2 linked regions of the Homo sapiens genome follow. The protein of the gene in region 2 purifies or fractionates together with the protein of the main gene of each other region. This does not show direct contact. Each region holds a gene or a part of one and is shown on either strand. Other genes may lie near its edges.

Region 1 (10,742 bases), on a different chromosome or scaffold from region 2:
GTCTGTTGTCTTAATCAGCCTGGGTCATACAGAGTAAGGGATCCCTTACAGAGATGGCCTCACGCCCCTCCCTGGTCCTTTCTCACAGTCTGACAGTCCTACAGCTAGCACTTCTCTGGGGATGCCAGTCAGGACAGAGTCCAGTCTGCAGCCACACAGAACCCCCATTTCTAGAACTCTCTTCTGACTCAGAATTTGTTTTCAGTAAACCCACTTTTGAAGCCATCTGTGTCTGACAGCCAGGACCAGGCTCTACACAAGACCCAAAAACCCAAGCTTCCTGAGGCTGTTCTGCCACCCTGGATCCAGGAGGGCCGTCCTCCTGCAGGTGAACCAGGGATGAGGGGCTTCCAGGTGGGCCACCCTGCTCTGACCAAGGTCAGCGTGAGCCTCTACAGGGTGCTGCTGACTGCTGCCAGCTCCTGAGGCAGGGCCCCTGGCTTCGGCTATGCTATAAAGGCTCCTGGTAGAGCCTGAGTGCCGTGAGGCTCATGGTGGCCAATCTGTGGGCTTCTGGCTGTGTCAATTCTACCAAGTGAAAAAAGTCTACAGCAGTTTTTCTGGTATTTTTCTATCCTGCCTGTGCAGAGGGAATCAGCACGTGTGGTTTTAAACCACAGTGCTAGTTCTCACTTCTGCCCTGTACGACCAAGCCCGGCTGCCTGGCTCCTGGTGGGCTAGCAGGGCAGCTGTCGAAGAACACATCTGGGCAGTTGCTGGGATCAGCCCTGGACAAGAGGGGAGTTTAAGATTTCGTTTGTTACATCTCGTTCTTGGCATTTCGAGGAACAGTCTCTCTGAATAAAGGAGGCCCCACTTGGGCCATATCCTGCACTGGACAAGAGGGCATCTGAGCTGCCCTCAGCACCCAGGGGCCCCAGGCCCCACTTCTGGAGGCCTCTGCAAAGACACAGGAAGGGCCCAGCTGTGGCCTGGTCAGCACCCCAGAGGGGCCCTCCCAAGGGCAGATGGGCAGGCCCAGCCACTTACAGGTACTGGCGCCGCAGGGCCTCAACATCCGAGTTGACGCTGCTGATCTGGGACCGCTGGCTCTTCTCCAGCTCCCGCTCCATTTCCTCCCGGTGGGCGTTCTTCATGGCTTCGATGGCTGCAGGCAAGGACACGGCCTCAGCACCGAGGGACCACGCCCTTCCTGCTGACAGGGGTGGGGGTGGGGAGCTCCACACAATGGGATGGCGCCTGCCACTGCTGATGCTTGCTTAGTCAATCAGCAGTTGGATTTTGCATGACAGGCTGGCCCCTCATGAACCAATTCTCTGAGGTGGGTGCAGGCTGGGAGAATTCTTCATGAACTCCCCCTGGAAGGAATGCACGTTTGGCTTTTTTTTTGGTGTTAGAAGAAAACCAAACTGATTAAATAAATGTCATTGTTAAATTCCAACATGAGTTTATAAAACAAGCAAGCTTTTGTGCTGGTGTATTTTCTTCCTTGGAACTAAATTAACAAACCACTGAGGTGGCGATTACATAAAGGGAAGGCAGCACAAGGCGGAGGGGACGTGCTTGTTTAGGGCCACCTGCCGGTGAAGCTACATATCTTCACGCTGACGGCAGGGGCATTCTGGCCAGAGGTGGTCCCACGTTGACAGGTGTCTGTCAGGGGGAAAGTCACTGGCTGGACTGACACTGGTCAGTCTACTTGTTGGAACTGGAAAGTCACAGGTTGGGACAGCTCCTTGTGTGCAGCCGGCCACGACGGGGCTGTCAGGGGTCGAAGTGTGCGCTCTCAGTTTACAAGCTCTCAAAAGGGACCTAAAATTGGCCTTTGCCTCAGAGTGAATAGTCAAAGAACCCTTCAACAATGAAGTTTACATCTCAGCCAAAAGGCAATTTAAAGGCTGCCATTCCTCTGAGTTGTGTGTCTAGCTCAAAAAAAGCTGGCCACCCACCCTGCCCTCAGGGTTACCCCACCCCCCAACCTGAGATGGTGGCCGCTGTCTCCTCGGCTAGGAGGCGGTCTTTCTCTTCTCGAAGTTTCTCTAGCTCCCGCTGGTGCTGCCTCTGGAGATCTTCAATCTTCTTCTGGTGCGTTTCTTCCATTGCTGCAAACCCTCGCTCGCACGTGGCCTGCAAAATGCAAAAGGGACTTCATCGACTTCTTTCTTTACCTCTAAGTTGGGGGCCCTTTTAAATAAAGGAGCCAGGAATCCCACCCTGTCCAGGCCCAGCTGTGACTGGGCATTCACTGAGCTTGCTCCACCATGGGCGCCCTGAACAGGATCCCTGGGGCTGTCTGGGGATTCTCAGCAATGCCATCAGAGCATTCAGAAAAGGGTGTTACCAGTCAACTCTACCTCTTATTTCTGTGACTGTACTGTGCCCCATTTCTTCCTGGGAGAAGTTGGTATGGTAGGTGGGGACAGGCTGCTATGAAATGGAAACCAGCCAACCCTGGACCTTCCTGCGTTGCTGCCAGGTGGGACCCACAGGAAGGAAGAGAGAGCACGTGGGCAGAGGCTGGCTGTGTCTGGTCTGGAGGGACACGGTGAAAGGCCCGTAAAACAGGGATGAGGGACTTGTCTGCTGGAGGGAACCAAGGCCATTCCACATATAGGGAGTGGCCTGGCGGGCACCGGGCTGGGAGCCTCTCAACCCACAGTGGGTTGGGGGTACATAGAGTCCACTTCTGGGAGCTGGGGGTTGGGACTCTGCCACTAGCCAGCTGACAACCTCCAGCTGGTCACTTAATGCTCAGGTGTTGACTGAGGGAGTAAGATCAGGCTACAGGCTCCCCTTCCTTCTAGCCTGTGTCTTCTTTCTTACTCTTTTCTTAAAGAAGGGCACCAATGACTTAGCACCTCTGCTAACTCTAACAAGTACATGACAGGAGACCTGCTTTCCAAACTCTCCTGTGCCTCCCTAGAGCGACATAGGCATGCCCCAGGATGGGAGCAAGCCACACCAGGAAGCCCAGGCCTGGTTATCAGAGCTGTGCTCACTAACAAAGCAGGTGAGCGTGCTGCACAGCTGCCGGGAAGGGTGGGTGTGCAGCTATTTTGAGCACGGAGGCACACACTTTCTGTCTAAATCCTTCAAGTGGTCTGCTTCAGAGAAGGGACTGGGCCTCTCGCTGAGTTTTAAAAACTGGAAGAACGTGGCCACATTCCATTCCAAATTCAAGTGTGGGGGTTTCCCCACTCTGGGCTGATAGCCTGCACCACTTGGTTAATCTTCTTGCATGTGGATTCAAGAAAGGATACCAAGAAATCCTATCAGCATGCCTGGGCATTTTTCTCTGGGCCCACTTTTGGTGATGGCCAACTCTGAGAGCCTCAGGCAGTATTTCCAAACTCGTGGTCAGTCTGGACTTGACTGCAACCTATGTGCTGCTCTGGGTGAATGTCTCAGCTATTGCCACTATTAACTAGGCGTCCCATCCCCTCTCCCAGCGGCTCCACCTGGAAGCATCTGTCTCTTTCTGCCACCCTCACACCTCAGGACGGCTGCAGGAGCTCGGAGCTCTGGAGCTCCTGGTCCTCAGGCCCCAAGGTTGAGCTCTTCTTTCTTCCTCCCACTCGCTTCTGTTTGTATGTGGCTTCTCAGTTAACACATTTAACTAATAGGTCTTTTTTAATTAAAAAAAAAAAAAATATATATATATATGGAATACTTCATGAATTTGTGTGTCATCCTTGTAAAGGGGCCATACTAATCTTCTCTGTATCATTCCAATTTTAGTATATATGCTGCTAAAACGAGCACAACTAGTATTAATAGATCTTTTAAGTCTTTTTTTTTTTTCTTTGAGTCTACTTGCTGGGAAAAGTCTTATTTTGATCTGAGTGCTTTGGAATATTATGCAGGTAAGAGTCAAAAATCTAACAGAAGCACTGGGACATCTTTAAAGACCTAGTTGCTTCTTTGGAGAGAAACTATATGCTAAAAAATAATTGATCTTGCAAACAAATGTTAATTTAAGCCAATCATTCCTGACACCAAAAGAAGTTCCCCGATGACTGCAATCGTGGTGTGGTGGGAGCCTGTGGATGTCAGAGGACGGCTGTTAGGCCAAGACCCTGTCCCCAACGACCCAAGTGGAAATCTGCATAAAGTGATGAAATCTCAAGGTGCTGTCTATTTACAAGTTCTGTAAGTCTGCAGGGGTGGGTGAGAACACCACACCTGGGCTAGAAGCTCCCAGGCACAGGAGGGGACACTATGCAACGGCAGCTAAGGCAGCAGGGAGTGGACAGTGTCCAAGCCCCTGGGAGGGGCCTCATCCCGACCTGCATCATCTGTTTCTCCCTCCTAGTGACACTGGCCCAGCACAATCTCTGGTCAGTTCTCAACATAAGGCAGTCCTCTTTTTTCTGATTTCTTGCTCACTGTTGGTATAATGGCACCTGCATGGGGCCTCCCCTGCACCTGGTTGGCTAACCTAAAGCAGCCTCGGTGTGGAGGGGCCTCTTATGGATGCAGACAGGAAGCAGGGCATTGCTGTGCCCAGGCCCTGCCCCCATGGACCCTGCTGATTGTCTGGGAAGCTGCAGGGAAGGGCACTAGCAAGCGTATTTGGGGTCAAAGCAAAGGTTTGTGCAATTAACTTTTCAAGGTGCACCTGGATCCACCCATCTCAGTGCTGCTCTTGGTGAACTGACCACAGTGCCATCATATACACACACTTTGAAAACATAGCTGTTGAAACCTTCTCACAACTCATAATGGTTTTTAAAAGGTTTTGACTGATTTGGGGAAAGAATGGTGAAAAAGAGCTTCTCAGTTCTCCTGAGGTGCTCGCTGACAACCACACCTGTGTGTCTGGGTGGGGCCGAGTCCGTCACACAGAGGTGACATGTGAGCTGCTGTTTCCATTCAGAGCTACAGGAGTAACGGGCTGGGAAAAACAGGTGTCCTGCTAGACAGTGGCTGTGAGGATGTGTAGGCAGGAGCAGTGGCAGCCACCTGGGAGTCAGGAGCTTGCAGCACAATGGTGCTGGCTGTGTGCGCGCCTGGCTCTGCCACATGAGCGTGGAAGGCACCACCTGAACATGGCTTTTGAGGGGCCTAGTCATCCTAGTCATTTACTGGGGCAGCTTCCTGAGTGGAAGGAACATAAGGGCACAGGTATCATGGTAAACTTTTGAGTCTAAGGGATGATGCTTGACAGCCACACATGGTGGGTGTGGCCTGCAGCTACAAAGGGTGGGGCCAGACAGCTGGGCCTCCACTCAGCCCACCACCACCTCCAGGGCCTGGCATTTCGCCTTTGTGCTCCAGGACCTCAGGGGCGGGGATGCAGGACAGTTCTGGGGAAAATCTACTTGTAAAGGTCCTGGGGAAGGGGACAGGAGTGGCTGGAGGCTGTGCTCCGTGGGAAAGTTCTTCTCACCAGAGCACACATCAAATGCCAGTTCCAGAGAGGGACCCTCCGCCCGACTGTGCTCTCCTAGGGCAATCAGGAGGAGACTGCCCTCCAACTGGGCCCTGGCTCTCCGGGGTGTTGCTGTGAGTACAAGGCTGTCCTCAGGCAGCTGCCTCAGATTTGGGCTGGGACTGGGCCAGACGGGGTTCCCGGGGCAGGGGCAGGAAGGAGGCAAGGCTGGCAAGGGGATTGGGGGCTGCTCTCAGGAACACGGAGAGGCCGCATTAGGCAGGCAGGGAAGTGCTGGGAAGACTACGTGCTCCTCTCCCACCAGGGACCCTGGCGGCCCTCCTGCTAGTTCTCCTCCTGGTGGAGGACACTGGGGGATGCCGAACAAGAGGCTAAGCCTGCGGCCCAGGCCCTGCTGAGACCACACCATGGCTAGCAAGTAGAGGGACAGCAGCATATCCCCTCAATTCTGCCTGCACGGTAGCTGAGCCAGACGTCCCCACACCCACCCCATTATCAAGGAAGATCTGCTCTGCAAATTGAATGGGGCGTTAAGACCTTAAGGCTCTCCAAGTCCCTCTGGTACTTCTCACGCAGTGTGGCCGCGTCGCCCTCCAGGTCCTTGTGTCCCAGCTCCTCCCGCATGACATCCATCTGGGCCTCCAGCTCCTGGATGCGCTCCCTCAGCCCCGTCATGGAGTCAGCCTCTCCCTGGGTGGCCTGCCAGTTGGGGGCAGGGGCTGGCAGGGCCTTGGGGTGTGGCCCCTGGTGGAGGCAGAGGGTGTCCTGAAGGCACCTCAGGCTCTGCGAGTAGTGCTCCTGCAGGGTCCTCAGCTCCTCCTCGTGGATCGTCTGCAGCTCCCGGACCTTGAGCTGGAACCTGTCCTCCAGGGTCTGTATCTGCTCACCATGATGCCTCTCCATGTCCTGCCTGTCTCTGACCGAGGCATCCAGCTGGCTCAGGACCCGGCTGCGCTCAGCCTGCAGTGTGCTCTCGGTCCTGGTCAGCTGCTCCACCACACACCGAATCTCCTCCTCATACCTGCCCCGCAGGGTGAACATGCTCATGCTGTGCTTGCTCTCTGCATCCTCCAGACACTGCTGCTGATGGTCTAGCTGGGCGGCCTTGGCCTTGAGCTCTGCATTCTCCCTTTCAACAATGGCGATCACATCCAGGTACTCGCTCTTCTGCTTGCGGAGAAGCTCCTCATACTCCTCCCTCAGGGCCCGGGCTGCCTGTGCCTGCTCTGAGCAGGAGGGCTCCCGGGTTTGCCAGGACTCCTTGCAGAGCTGGAGCTCCTTCTCATATTCTAGCCGGATTCTGCAGGACGCATAGCAAACCTGGGCCTGAATAATGGCATCCTGAACCAACAATGAAGAATACTGACCGAGGCCTCCCAAACAAGTGTTATACGAGAGACTCTGGGACACCTGGAGAAGCTTCTGGCAATCTCTCAGCGATTCCACAGGTGGCAGAGATGGTAAGGCAGCCGCTATCTCCTCTAAGAGGCTGGCCTTCTCCTTCAGCTGCTGGGCAAGCTCCTCCTGAATAGCAACAAAGGCCCCAGGGCTCTGGTCAGACACATCGAAGGGCTCCTGAGAGCTGTCTGAGTCTCGGCCCAGGACTTCTCCTAAGGGGCTCAGGTCCCAGGACAGCTGAACACCATCTTCATGGCCCGCTGGAAGCCTGAGGGCTTCCAAGACCTGCTGCATCACTCTTTCAAAGTCTGGGGTTTGGTAGGCTCCCAGGATTTCCCTCAGCAGGCATTTGTGCTGCCGCAGGGCCGTCTGGGTGCCCCGCAGGGTCTCCTGGATGCTCTGTAGCCTGCGGTGGAACGACTCCCTCACTGACTGTGTGGCAAAGCTGAGCTCTGCCCTGACCCATGTGGCATTGGCCAGGATGGGGGCCAGGCCCTGTGGGATGCTTTGCTGCCCGTCTCCTGAGGCACCGACTGCCTCTCCTCCCAGTGTCCCCAAGTGCTTCCTCAGAGACTCAACCTGGCTCCAGAACTCACCATCCACTAGGACCTTCCTGGCCCAGGTGTCTACGGGGGCCCCAGCAGATTCCATCGGTGGCTGTCCTGACCAAGAAATCTCATGGAGCATTCGGGAGACATCTGATGTTGTGTTCTTCAGGGAATCTGCTATCTGGCTGATCAGCGAGGCCTCCAGAGCAATCTGGTCAGAAAGAAGCCTCACCTGCTCCTGCTCTGTCAACTCAGACTGGGAGCACTGCTGCAGGGAGGCAGGCTTCCCATTCTCCTCGGTGCCACCTGTCTCCAGCTGTGCACGGGCCCCGCCATGGGCTGGGGCCGGCCAGTGCTGCAGGGCTTGGATGGCGCTGACGAGTGCACTCTCCACACTGGCCAGGGAGGCTGCGCGTGCGTCCTGCTCATCCTCCTGGCTGGCCCTAGGCAGAGATCTCAGTTGTTCTCGGCAATTTTCCAGGCACATCAGGGCCTGACTATTCTTGACCTGGAAGTCCCCAAGCTCTCCAACATGCCCTTCAACCCTCCTGGCCCTCTCCTGCCTCTCCTGCTCCAGCTGGGAGGCCAGTGCGCCAACCTGGAGCAGGCTGGCGCGGAGCTGCTCACGCAGCTGGGCCTCGGTGCCCGCCCACTGGTGGTGCAGTGCGAGCAGTGCCTCACGGCTCTGACCCTGCTGGCTCTCCAGCCTCACGGTCACGTCTTTGAGCTTTTCCTCTGTGACGTAGAGCTTGGTCTCCAGGGAGTGGATGATGGAGAGGTACGTGTCAGAGTCGCCAGTTGCAGGCAGTACACTGGGTGCAGGCTCTGAGGACATGCTTTCTTCCGAGGGTGACCGGTCCTGGCTGGTGTCGGAAGATGTGCTGCTGGTCCAGGTCTTCTCAGACCCTTCGGGGTGAATGTATCTTTGGCACTGGATTGTGGAGAACCGGATTCTTTGCCTTTTAACACCAGGTGCCCCTTGGTCGAGTTTGGCTGTGCCCTGCTGATGGCCCTCCCTGTCAAGCACTTCCACTGACTTTGGGGGCACCATGCTGTCTTCCCTACTGGGGCTGCCATCACCGTACTCTTCCCCCGGAGGAGCCCCCAGGTCCTCGTCCTCATCCTCGAGCCTTGTGTGTGGGAGGCCTAGAGGTGCCCTAGTGGCTTGGACTGGTTGGCCTGGGAGCAAAGTGCCATCCCTTTCTGTCTCTTCAGGGGTACTCCGTGGCTCTTCCATGTCCTTTGGAGATTCACTTGCAAATTTCCTTAAAATCTCTTCTTTTGCCTGGAGCTTAATTTCTGTTTCCTCTAAGCTGCTCCCCAAGGCAACCATTTTAACCAAAGCCTCATTGAGGTCCTGCTCCTTCTTCTCCAGAACCTTCTCATGTGCTTCCTTAATGCGCTCCAGCTCTTCCTCCTTCTCTCTCAGCAGAGTGTGCATGCTCTGCAGCTGGCTGGAGACCCTCTGGTAGGAGTGCTCCAGGCTCTGGTTGTCAGCCTCTCTTCTCCTCAGCTTTTCCCGGAGCTCAGCCACATCCTCGTCGGACGTGGCCACGCGCTCTGTCAGCTCCTGGAACCGCTGTCTGAGGAGGTCCCGCTCGTCACAGAGGCTCTGCACGTGCTCTGCGAGCCTGCGCACGCTGGCCTCTCGTGCCTCCAGCTGCTCCTCCAGCTGGTGCACCTGCTCACTGCCCTCGAAAGTGGCGCTCAGCTTCTCCTTCTGCAGGGTCTCCACCTGCTGTGCCTGACCCTGCAGCTGGTCCTCATAGGCGCTGGCCTTGTCTTCCACTTCCTTTAGGTTCTGCAGCAATGCCTGCTTCTCCTTCTCACAGCTCTCCAGCAGCAGCTCATAGTTTCTCTGCAGCTTCTCCTCCATCAGCCGCTGCGCCTGCTCACTGGCGCCCAGTTGCTGGCTGAGGTCGGCAATGCGCTCCTGCAGCCTCTGGACCTCCTTCTGCCGGTCCCGCTGCAGCGCCTGCTGTGTCTCCAGGCCCCGTAGCTCCTGCGTCTTCTCCAGCAGCAGGGCCTCAGCACTCTTGAGCTTCTGCTCGCTAGCCCTCAGCTGGCTGCTCAGCGCCGCCTCGCTGTGTTGCCGCTCCTCCAGCTGCTCGCGGACCCGGCCCTGCTCCCGCTTCAGGTCGCCCTTGAGCTTGGCCAGCGCCTGCTCCTTGATGGCTAGCTCAGCGGCCGCATTGCTGAGCCGTGCCTGAAGGCTCCGGATCTCAGCCTCGTGGTGCCGGATCGTGTCCTTGGCCTCCCCATAGCTACGCTTCAGGGTCTGAATCTGGTGTGTAATCAGCTCCTGGCGCTGGCACTGGGCTTCAAGCTCACTTTGAAGGTCTTGGTTGACTCTATGGAGCCTCTGCCAGGCACCCGATGGGGAGGCGGCCACTTCAGTCTTAAAAAAACCGATTAAATACTGGTTAGTAACACTCGGGCCTCCCAGTTCTGAGTGTCACACCTCTGGCCAGGAACAACCACAGAAAGCTCCTTGATGGCTTTGGCTTTTATCCTTTGTACAACTTTATTTTTTTTTCCCATTAAAAAAATCCAACAAATTTTCTTTTTTTTTTTTTTTAGTAAGTAGCTGCTTCCAGGTAAACAGAAAACATGGACAATAACATCAGAAAACAGCTTTAACCAAACAGCTTCTAGGAGAAATAAACCAAACAAAACTGAATAATGGAACACACTAAGAAGCAAAACAAAGACTAAAGGACAAGAGAGCGCCAGGAAGAGGGACAGGCGGGAGGAGCACAGCACCTGCAGCTGTTTGTTTCACAAAACAAAAAGTACGCAGTCTTGACAACAAATCCTAAACAAGCGCAGGACACAAGGTGTAGGTAAATGATGCCACTTCCTTCTAAGACAGGAGGAGAAGGAAGGAAGGTAACACTCGGGAGATGTCAGCAAGGTGACATCCAAACATTTTCCTGTGGAAAGTGTAGTCAGTCCTCTAGAGTAACAGGAAGAACTAATCTCTACCTGTAAGAAGTCAAAACGAGGGGGGAACGGGAACCATGGAGTAAGATACAATAATCAACAAAACAAACAAACCTTTGTGGAGTTCAAAATAAGAAAAAGTGAAGCATGCAAAAACAAAACACAACGTAAATGAAACAAAACTCCCCACACTGAAAGGCATGCAGAGACAGAACTCATTAATATAGGGAAAAACAACACAAACAAGAGTGAGCCGAGCCCAGCCTAAGAATCTGGCCTGCCTATGGCTCCCTCTCGGTCTGCTGGCCGGGGAAGCCACAGATGTGACACTCAGTTATGTTAAGTTCAAGTTACACTTCACACTCAATGTCCAAATCATGCAAGCTCCTCCCAGCAGTTAGTATAGCACCCACCCCAGTAGCTGGCTCCTGACCCTTAACCCCACAGACCCCCTGCTCATTCTGAGTCGTGATTAAAAGCATTTCCAAAGCATAAAGGGT
Region 2 (10,742 bases):
TCTGCATTTCCTAAGGAACTAATGAAGGTGGCATCTTTCCATTTGTCTATGAGGCAGCTTGCATTTCTTCTGAGTTGTTTCCTCATACTGTTAGCAACCACCACACCCCCACTTTTATTTCCTTATCCTTTTTCATTCATCTGTGGGTTCTTGCCTAAATTAAGGATAGTAACCTTTATGTTTAATATACTACAAAATCTTTCTCATTCTGTCATTTTTGATTCTGTTTATGATGTCTTAAGCCATATAAAATTTTAAAATTTTCATGTAATTAAATACGTCATTCTTTTACTTTATAGCTTGAGTTGTATGTTTAAGGCCTTCTGCACTCCTGGACATAGACAGCAGCAGAGGTTCTGGAATGAGCCTTCCACCCCCATGTTCGTAGCCTGGCTGGTCCCACTTTCCAGCTGCATCCTTGTCCTATCTGTGCTTCTGCTGCATAGGCTCAATGTCTACTTCACAGGGTTGTGATGACAACAAAATGCATTCACATGTGTAAGGTGCCTAGGACTCTGCCTGCTTCATTTTATTTTAGGGTCTTCGCTAGACCCATCACGTGCCTCCTTCTCTTTCCTAAGGCCTGGTACCCACATAAGGTGATAAAGGTGACCTCAGATCCAGACATGGAATCTGTCACTTGGACATCCTTATATAATAAAATTAATATATATTATATACTTATATAATTAATTATATTACATAAGCTTATATAAGCACTGTGTGTCAGGAATATCATAATTGCTTTATATAACAATAACCACAAATAATGATATTAAGAGCTAACATGCAAGGAATGCTTCCTGTGTGCCAACCACTGTTTCTAGCACTTTATACAAATTAACCAGCACAAGAGTCCTCAATCCTTAATGTAAAAATGCTCTCAATCCTTATATTATATATTCTTGATTCAGAAGCATTTCCTTTTAATTCTCTTGACAATTTTAAGAAGTATGTATCATTACCTCCATTGTACAGATGAGAAAACTGTGGCTTAGAGCAGTTAGGTCATTTGCACGAGGTCACACGCACCACCGTGGCAAAATGGGGCTTCTAAGCCCAAGGTGCTAAACGGCCCACGTGGGCTCAACATGGGGTCAGTCAGCACAGTGTGGGTGACTGGGCTATGGAATCAACTTGGAGGCTTCGATGGTTGTCTTATCTAGTCCCAGAATTCCCTGCCAAGGTCACTGGCAGGGCTGGTGAAACCCCCAGCAAACAACCTGGAACTATGTTAAGGAGCTGGTTTACGAGTCAGGGGGCATGGAAGTGGGGAGGGGGTGCATCTTCTCAGAGACAAAAATGAGGAGCAAAGGTGGTGGTAAATTGCAAATTCTAATTCTAGGTATTCCTCTTTAAAAGTGGCCACCTCCCATGGGGCCATGTTGCTCAACTATTTCCATAGTTCCAAAGAAAAGAAGAATTTCCTGAAAATCTAAGTGAGTTCAGGCACAGCCTGGGAGTCTCCAGCTATAAACAGAGGAGAGACAGAGTACAGCCTCCTCTCTACTCCAGTAACAAGGTCCCACAGAACACCAAGTGCCTGGGATGACGCTTTCCAGGCAGGCAACTGAGGGGGTGGTGGGAGTTCCTAGAAAGAGGTTTATTCTTAAAAGGACTGGAAGTCCTGGGTCAAGGCAGTTCAGAAATGAGTGAAGAGCTCTGGGTGTGAAGGATGACCAGATTCCCCAGGAGATGACCTGCCCAGGAGATGACCTGCCTGCCACATTAGTTTGGCAGGCTGCCTTCTGGGAGAGGCCCAGGTTTAGTGCTTGGAGTTAAAGGACCTAGGCGTGGCGGGGGGGGATTCAGGAGAGTCCCAGAATTCCTTCTATGCTTTCTTATTTTGTTCCTGATGCCCTTAATTTTTTTCCCAGTGGTATCACCGTTCTTTCTGTCCTCTAACATCATGTCTACACATCTCCTGAGAAATGTATAGAGCTAAAAGCTAATAGAAAAATTGGTCTCCCGTCCACTATACCCACCAAGTGCTTTTACTCACATTCAGGTTCTCAGCACTTTTTAGGGAGCCAGGGAAGATGATTTATTCTTCTCGGTCTTCCAGGAGCCTAGAACAAGGCTAGTGTACAGAGCAGGTCCTCAGGAGCCATTTTATGGATGGATGGACGGTTGGATGGATGGACAGATGGATAGATGGATGGGTGGGTGGGTGGATGGGTGGGTGGGAGAATGGATGAGTGGATGGATGGATGGATGGACAAGTGGGTAGATAGATGGGCGGATAGGTGGAAGGGTGAATGGACAGATGAGTGGGTGGGCGGGTGGATGAATGAGTGGATGGATGGATGGATGGATAGATAGATGGGTAGATAGGTGGAAGGGTGAATGAATAGATGGGTGGGTGATGGATGGATAGATGGATGGGTGGGTGTGTAGGTAGATGGATAGATAGGTGGGTGTGTGGATGGGTGGGTGAATGGATGGATGGGTGGGCAGATGGATGGATGGATGGATGGATAGATGGATGGATGGAAGATTGATGGATGAGTGGATGGGTAGGTGAGTGGATGGATGAATGGATGGATGGATGAATGGGTGGACAGATGGATGTCTGGATGAGTGGATGGGTGAATGAATGGGCGGGTGGATAGATGGGTGGATGGGTGAATGGGTAGATGGGTGAATAGGTGGGTGGAAGGATGGGTGGGTAATGGATGGATAGATGGATGAGTGAGTGGGTAGATGGATGGATAGGTAGGCAGGTGGTAGATGAATAGATGGATGGGTGGGTCAATGGTGGATGGATGAGTGGATGAGTGGATGAATGTATAGATGAATGGGTAGACAGATGGATGAATGAATGAATGAGTGAATGAGTGGATGGATAGATGGGTAGGTGGGTGGATGGGTGGGTGAGTAGATGAATGAATGAATAAATAGGTGGACTAAACACGCCCTCACACACTTCCACGGACCTTCTTCCCAATCCCAGCATAAACCATGCCCTTCAAGCAGCCCATGTTCTGCTCCCCAAACACACTGTACACTCTTCCCTCAGTGCCTTTGCGGGGATGATTCTAACCTTTCTAAAAGTACTTCTGCCCTCTTCTCTGCCTAATTCCACTCATGACCAGGGCTCATAATAAGCTCATGCAAAAGCCCTCTCTTCACTCCAACCAAAGAGTATCCCCCTTTTCCAGGCTCATGCCACATTCTTTAGCCCTTGGCTATGAAATCTTTGGATACCTACTGCTGATCGTGCACTTTAAATGGCTTCAGTGAGCACAGGCAGGGTATCCTGGCCTCCAAACTCACACATCAAGGTCTAGTGTGGAAGCTTCCCCAGCACTGAGCCCCCAGCCTGCACTTGCTTCTCTGTTGCACAGAACCAGAGAACAGGCAGTAATGCAGAGTGTGTACCCCTTCCCTGAGATGGTGCCTGGGAAAGGAGCCCAAAGGCCAAGGCATCCCGCCAAGCCTAACTCCCCCTGGGCTTGCAGCTGGAGGAGGGCCACTGCATGTCAAGAGCTCACAGAAACAGGCAACAAGCATTGCAAGAACAAAGGTGACAGCAGCATGCCATCCAAAAAGTACACCAGCACTGCCCGCCCATGGGTGGTTATGGAGATGTGTTAGTTAAGTCTTGGCTAAAAAGTACAATCCTAAGTTAGGACAGAGGCATCGTTTTGTCGGTCCCATGTGGCCACTGAATTATCTGAGAGAGGGCAAATTTCCAACTTACCATCAAGCAGATATTTTTGTTACTATAGACTGAACCCCAAAGAGCAATGGCCACTAAGAAGGGGGTTCTCAGTTTGGTGAGTTTAAGCATTTATGTATATGTGTAGGCGCACATACATGTACACAGCAGGAAGTCTGGTCTTTGTATACCTGTAACCACCTTAAGGGAAAGGGAAAAGCAAATGAAGATACCACCTGTTACACTTCTCTGCATCCAAGGCACCGCACTAGGTGCTTCCCATCTGGCATTTTGGTGAAGGGCCTATTGTTGTGGATTGAATGGTGACCCTGAAAAGGTATGCGCATGTCCTAACCCCCAGAATCTGTGAATATGACCTATTTGGAAAAAAAGGACTTTGCAGATGTCATTATGTGAAGGATCTCGAGATGAGATGATCCTGGATTATCTGGACAGGCCCTAAATCCAAAGACCTCTCTTTTTAAGAGACAGAAGGGAAGACACGGCAGAAAGAAGGCCATGTGAAGACAGATGTGGAGGCTGGAGTGATGCAGCCACAAATCAAGGACCACCCTGAGCCACTAGAATCTAAAGGAGGCAAGGCATGGCTCTCTGGAGGGACCAAAACCCTGCTGACATTTTGATTTTGAACTTCTGGCCCCAGAAGAGTGAGAATCAGTTTTCTGATGTTTTGAGCCACTAAGTCTGTAGTACTTTGTTACACCAGCCCCAGGAAACTAATACAAGACCCAGACATTTTCTGCAGAATTCCCAGGTGCAGGGGCAGTGGTTAAGACATACTCATTAATCATTTGTTCATGGGAATATTTAAACTGGAGTCAGCCCATGCCAAAGCCAATTCCATTCACAGACTCTGGGATAACAGCATCTGTCTTATAATAAGGAAAGGAGTGAATTTTCTTAAAAAGGGAAATAACGCAGAAGAGGAGGACAGGAGTATTTGTCCCAAAGATCGCTAACAGGAGTCCTTAAATTGACACATTTCAGAAAGTACATTTGTTTTTTTCCCAGAAGATATACAAAGGAGGGAGTAGACGGGACCTACCCCAGGGAGTGAACTGAGATTCTTCCCCAGGGCGATGTCTTTGGTGTGAGAAACATCACCACCCACTGGGACACAGGTCCCAAAGCCTGAGAGCCCCAGGGTGAGGTACAGGAGGGAAGAACTCACCACCCACTCCCCTGCTCATGGGGCCCAGGACCACACACACTCACCAGTATTTTAATGTCTCAGAGAAAGGTGAATATGTCCACTTTTCAAAGGTACACAGTATATACACAGTTTTAAATTCACAAGAGGCAAAATAGGAGATAAAATCCATTGACTTACACGTAGAATCCTTGAGAATTATCAATAATCTCATAAATTGTTTGAGATTTGATGGAGCTAAGCTTCTCCATGGCCGCGGCACCTCCATTGTTTTTAATCCACTCCAGAACCAAGCCCATGACGTAGATGCTAAAATGAAGATTTTTAAAAAATCCGTTTAGCTCATCTTTGCAAAAGTAGAACTATATTCAAGCAAACTGCTGTTGAAGGTGCATTAAAACAGACTTAAACACATTATTTGAAATAGACAAGATAGTCAAATGCAGTGGCTCACGCCCGTAATCCCAACACTTTGGAAGGCCGAGGCCGAAGGATCGCTTGAAGCCAGGAGTTGGAAAGCAGCCTAGGCAACATAGCAAGACCCGTCTCCATAAAAATTGAAAAATTAGTTGGGTGTGATAGCATGTGCCTATAGTCCCAGCTACTTGGGAGGCAGAGCAGGGAGGAATGCTTGAGCCCAGGGGTTCGAGGCTGCAGTGAGCTATGATCACACCAATGCACTCTAGCCTGGGTGACAGAGCGAGATCCTGTCTCCAAAAAAAATAAAGAAAGAAAATACACAAGACAAAAGCAGGGCCCATGTGAACAAGAGCATGTCATCAAGCAAGGACTAGGGTCAACCCAATTCTAGATCCCTGAGGGCCATTCAGAAAAAGGTTTAATCAGATTTTTCACTAAACATCATATCAGTCCCTCCTTGTCCAGCTTAAGCCCTAATGTAAACTCTTCTTGAGAGCCAGAACACACTTCCTTATCTCCACCAGAAGGCATCAGCAGACCCCAATCCCACCCCTACCCAGAGCGAGCTCTTCACTTCCTGAACTCCCAGAGCGCCTTGCCCATATTACCTGCATAGTTTTTTTCCACTTGCTCTTTTAAGTTTCTGTGTGCCTGTTGTTTGGCCTCTGTGGTCTTGGAAGGCTAGAAGCCCACGCTGTTCATCTTTTCTACCCACATCCTTAGCACAGTGCCTTCCAGCCAGCAGAGAGCACTGTGGCCGAGGGGTTAAAAGGACGGGCTCCCCCTCCCAGTCCTGACTCCCATTGTAGGGCAGCCACTCACTAACAGACTACCCAGAATTAGTCACCTCGGTTTTCCCATCTGGAACCGGGAGATCCACCTACCTGTGGTGGACACCTGGCATTTTATCCACCCTGCTCTTCCCAACTCCACCCTCCAGCCAGTATGCAGGTCCAGCAAGGCCCCTTGGCTCCCTGGTCTCAGAGTTCGGCATAGGACCTAACTGGGCCAATCAGGGCCTTCCCTGAGATTTTCTGAATTGGGTGTGGGGAGAAAGAGTGGGGAGAGCAGAAAAAGCGGCAGAATATTAGTGCAACTGTGAGACAGGAGATGAGAGCCCTAGGGGATCATGTTTCTAGGAAACATCTGAAGAAGGCCCATCTGAAAATGAAGCCAACATTCCCGCTGAGAGAAGCCAGGATCAGAAGTGGAGAGCAGATGGAGGAGGATTTGTGTCCCTGGTTCCAGGAAGTCCAGCTGCACCTGGGCCCTTCCCGCAGCTCAGGACCATCCCTTTCTGAACCAAGTATTTCAACTTCTTCCTGCCAGACCAACGCTTAGCACAGGGCCTGGCACGTGGCAGGTGGGCCACACAAATGGCAGTCAGTAGTCCCTTCAAACTTAAGCTGAAAATATGAAACACTGAGGAGCGGTGCATGGTTTTCCCCAGTCTGAAAACCCCTCTCCTTAAGAAGGTGCTAAAGGCTCCACGTGTACTCAGTAAAAGCTCAGGGCACAGGAGGAGAGGTCGCCCAGGGAAGACACCATCTCCCTTGAGCTGGGAGTCTGGAGGTCAGCTGCCAACTATGCCCTCTCCAGAGGTGTGAATCAAAGATCCCCTATGGGAATTGTGCAAAAATTTACTGGGAGTCAATGCTCAGCTAAGATCTAGGGTGGGGATACCCAGCTGCTTCCTCCTTTATTAACAGGAGGGGACATTATGGGGTCTGGAAAATGCTCTAACAGCCAGCAGCTTGTCACAGGGAAGCCCCCTATACCAACTGGCTCATTCACTGTCTCAAGTGGGACCCAAGGCCTGGGTGCAGTGGCTCATGCCAGCTCATGTTGGCAAAAGCCAACACCGGGCTGCCCAGAGGGGCCTTAGGCAGGGAGCAGCCAGCAGCCACAAACATCCAACAACCTCTCCTGAAGCTTCCCCAGCCTACCTCCCCAGACAGCACTGGGAAGAAAGAGCAAGAGTGGCTGCTGGCAGAAAGGGAAGGCAGGGAGGAAGAGGAAACAGCCCCTGAGAATATCCACAGCCTCAGCGGTAGCTCTCTGGCTAACGTCCAAGAAGTCAGAGGGACAAAAGAGACAGAAGAGAGAAAGTAAGAGAAGGGAATGAGTACTTCCTGAAGTCTACTGTGGCCTCAGCCTATCTTTATTGATCACAATAATCCTCGGGTTAGAGCCACCGTCATCCCATTTTCCAGATGAGGAAACTGAGGCTCAGAGAGGTTAACTTTGCCTCAAGTCATCTGGCAAGCAGCTTAAAGCCAGGACTCCAACTCTAGCCTGTCTGACTCCAAGAATGCAAGCTCTTCCCACAAGTATGCAGGCCCTCTGCTTTGCCAGGGGCTGCAGGGCTCCAGCCACTAGCTCCCCTGCGAGTGGGACTGCAGAGCTATCACCACACACCAGTGACAGTGGCCAAGTCCAGCACACAGCACACATGCACGTGGGTGTGCATTCCAGACACGAGGCTGCCCAGCCCTCTGTTCATCAGATGCTCTGCAATTCCCACTTCACTTCCAACTGCTCCTCTCCCACACCTGCAGCCTGTTCACCCCCCACCTCCACACAGAACCACAGAAACACACCCTGCCATGTGATTGAATCCAAGCAGAGCCCAGGTCACCAACAATACTTCCAGGTGACCAAGCTTCCCTTTTGCCTGAAGCTCTGTGTTAGCCCAGGGTTTCAAAGCTGACATGGGCCCTTGCTGCACTGTGGATTTGGTTTGTCTAAATCCAAAGTGCAGCAAGGCCCATGTCAGGTCCACCGTCCTAGCCAGACCTCAGTACCGACGCCTGAACCCCTAGCTGACTGCTGTGCTCACACTCGCCGCCCATGATCTCTGGCTTTCTTAATGGGATCTGAGGAGGCAAGGCCAGCAGAAAGCTCACCCACTTTTAGGGGCTGCCTGGAGCCAGCACCCATAACTTGGCTCTATGAAGCCTAAACAAGAGGCAGACAACTCAGAAGCAAGCAAGCTGTCCTGAAGACTGAAGACATCCCTGGGATAGGAGGTCCTGCCTCCCCTCCCACCCAGCCCTCTGCAGAGCACTGATGTCTAGCCCCTGTGACTCTACTTAACACAAGATAGGAGGTCCTGCCTCCCCTCCCACCCAGCCCTCTGCAGAGCACTGATGTCTAGCCCCTGTGGCTCTACTTAACACAGGATAAGAGGTCCTGCCTCCCCTCCCACCCAGCCCTCTGCAGAGCACTGATGTCTAGCCCCTGTGACTCTACTTAACACAGGATAGGAGGTCCTGCCTCCCCTCCCACCCAGCCCTCTGCAGAGCACTGATGTCTAGCCCCTGTGGCTCTACTTAACACAGGACCCTCGTGGCTTCCAGTTCTTTATTAACTCATGTTTCAACTCCCATACCGTCTAAAATCTTGAAAACACAAGGGCTCTAAAACGCTTACACAGCTTATAGAGTGGTCTCAATTCTTCCCACTACCAGTGTGACATTTTTAAGACTTATGCCTTCATTTCTAAAATGCCACCTGCAAACACACAGGATAGGGTTCCTAACTCTGCCTATTAAATGATTAAATAAATCGAGGTATGTCCATTCTACAGGACACCATATATATTTTAAAACAAAAAAGGGCCAGGTGTGGTGGCTCATGCCTGTAATCCCAACACTTTGGACGGCCAGTGTGGGAGGACAGCTTGAGGCCAGGAGTTTGAGACCAGCCTGGACAACATATTGAGACCCTGTCGCCATAAATTTTTTTTTTAATGTAGCCAGGCATGGTGGCACTTGCCTGTAGTCCTAGCTACTTAGGAGGCTGAGGTGGGAGGATCACTTGAGCCTACGAGTTTGCGGTTTCTGAGAGCTATCATCACACTGCTGCACTCCAGCCTGCACAACAGAGCAAGACCCTGTCTCTAACAAAAATAAAATTTAAAAGTAAAAAATAAAAATAGGCATTTGAGCTGACATAGCAGAATGCCCATGGTATATTGTGGAGTGGAAAAATAGAATTCACAGAACAATTTGTATGGTAAAGTTCAAGTTCCATTTGCATGATTAAATATATGACTCTGTATATTTGCATATGCCCAGTTAAGAGTCTGTTAGGATACAAAGCAAGCAGTGAACAGTGGCTACCCTGGTGACTCTGCCCACCTGCAAGTCTTTGCTAAGAGTATGTTACTGTTTGTTTCTTTGTTTCTTTGTTTGTTTTTTGAGGCAGAGTTTTGCTGTCACCCCGGCTGGAGTGCAGTGGCACGATCTCAGCTCACTGCAACTTCCGCCTCCCAGGTTCAAGTGATCTCCCGCCTCAGCTTCCAGAGTAGCTGGGATTACAGGTGCACGCCACTACGCCCGGGTAATTTTTGTATTTTTAGTAGAGACAGGGTTTCACCATGTTGGCCAGGCTGGTCTCGAACTCCTGACCTCAGGTGATCTGCCCGCCTTGGCCTCCTGAAGTGCTGGGATTACAGGCGTGAGCCACCACACCCAGCCTAAGAGTATATCACTGTTATAAATTTTTTAAAGCAATACAAAATAGTCCCTGTGCACCAGGGCTTAGAAAAGGACACCAGAAAGTCCCCTGGAAAACTCTCCCTGGCTGTTCTAAGACTCCAGCTCTGCAGATGAGGTTCTGAAGTTGATGTTATGGCACAGTTTTCTCAGGAATCGGTGAATGTAGCCACTGAGTTGAGCACTTTTCCCAGAGGAAAGCTCCCAAAACTGGCTCCACTACACACCCCTCTGTGAATTCCAGGATTCCAGGCATCCCCATCCCACTGGGAGAAGGTAGTCTGGGACCAGTGAAGCCTTCCAAACAGGCCCACAAACTTAATTTGCATGCTCCCATTCTTTTATTTATTTATTATTATTATTATTTTTGAGATGGAGTTTTGCTCTTATTGCCCAGGCTGGAGTGCAATGGCACAATCTTGGCTCACTGCAACTTCTGCCCCCTGGATTCAAGTGATTCTCCTGCTTCAGCCTCCCGAGTAGCTTGGATTACAGGCATGTGCCACCATGCCTGGCTAATTTTTGTATTTTTAGTAGAGACGGGGTTTGTCCATGTTGGTCAGGGTGGTCTCGAACTCCCGACCTCAGGTGATCCACCTGCCTCGACCTCCCAAAGTGCTGGGATTACAGACATGAGCCACTGCGCCTGGCCTGTTCTCATTCTTTTAACAGGTGGCCTAAGATTAATGGTCTATTTGTTTTGTATTTTTATTAGTTACTTCACCTCATACTGCAGCTAAAACAAACGTATGCTTGTGTATTCAGTTAGTCATGGTAAGTAAAAAATATTTTGTGCAGTCAGAAGGGAAGTTTAGGGATCTTTTTCTCTATGCACTAATTGGGGTTAGTGTGTTCTACTGAAGGGTTAAAGAGAACAGCAGTGTGTTCTTTATTCCACTCTAGTTCATCACTCAGGGCTACGGAGCAACGATTTGAAGGCAGTTTTATCCAGCACAATTAAATCAAAGTTCCCAGGGCCTATGGTCATTAG

Evidence for each region.
Region 1: the proteins of PSAT1 (region 2) and MPRIP purify together in Homo sapiens (affinity purification with mass spectrometry; 2 studies listed by BioGRID and IntAct, with this or other methods). This does not show direct contact.

Annotation. Positions count from the first base shown.
Region 1 is NC_000017.11:17,163,064-17,173,805, reverse strand, and holds part of MPRIP (myosin phosphatase Rho-interacting protein), read right to left. Parts: intron 9,698-10,742; coding exon 5,891-9,697; intron 2,089-5,890; coding exon 1,941-2,088; intron 1,109-1,940; coding exon 991-1,108; intron 1-990. UniProt on the Homo sapiens protein: Targets myosin phosphatase to the actin cytoskeleton. Required for the regulation of the actin cytoskeleton by RhoA and ROCK1.
Region 2 is NC_000009.12:78,312,075-78,322,816, reverse strand, and holds part of PSAT1 (phosphoserine aminotransferase), read right to left. Parts: intron 5,142-10,742; coding exon 5,013-5,141; intron 1-5,012. UniProt on the Homo sapiens protein: Involved in L-serine biosynthesis via the phosphorylated pathway, a three-step pathway converting the glycolytic intermediate 3-phospho-D-glycerate into L-serine.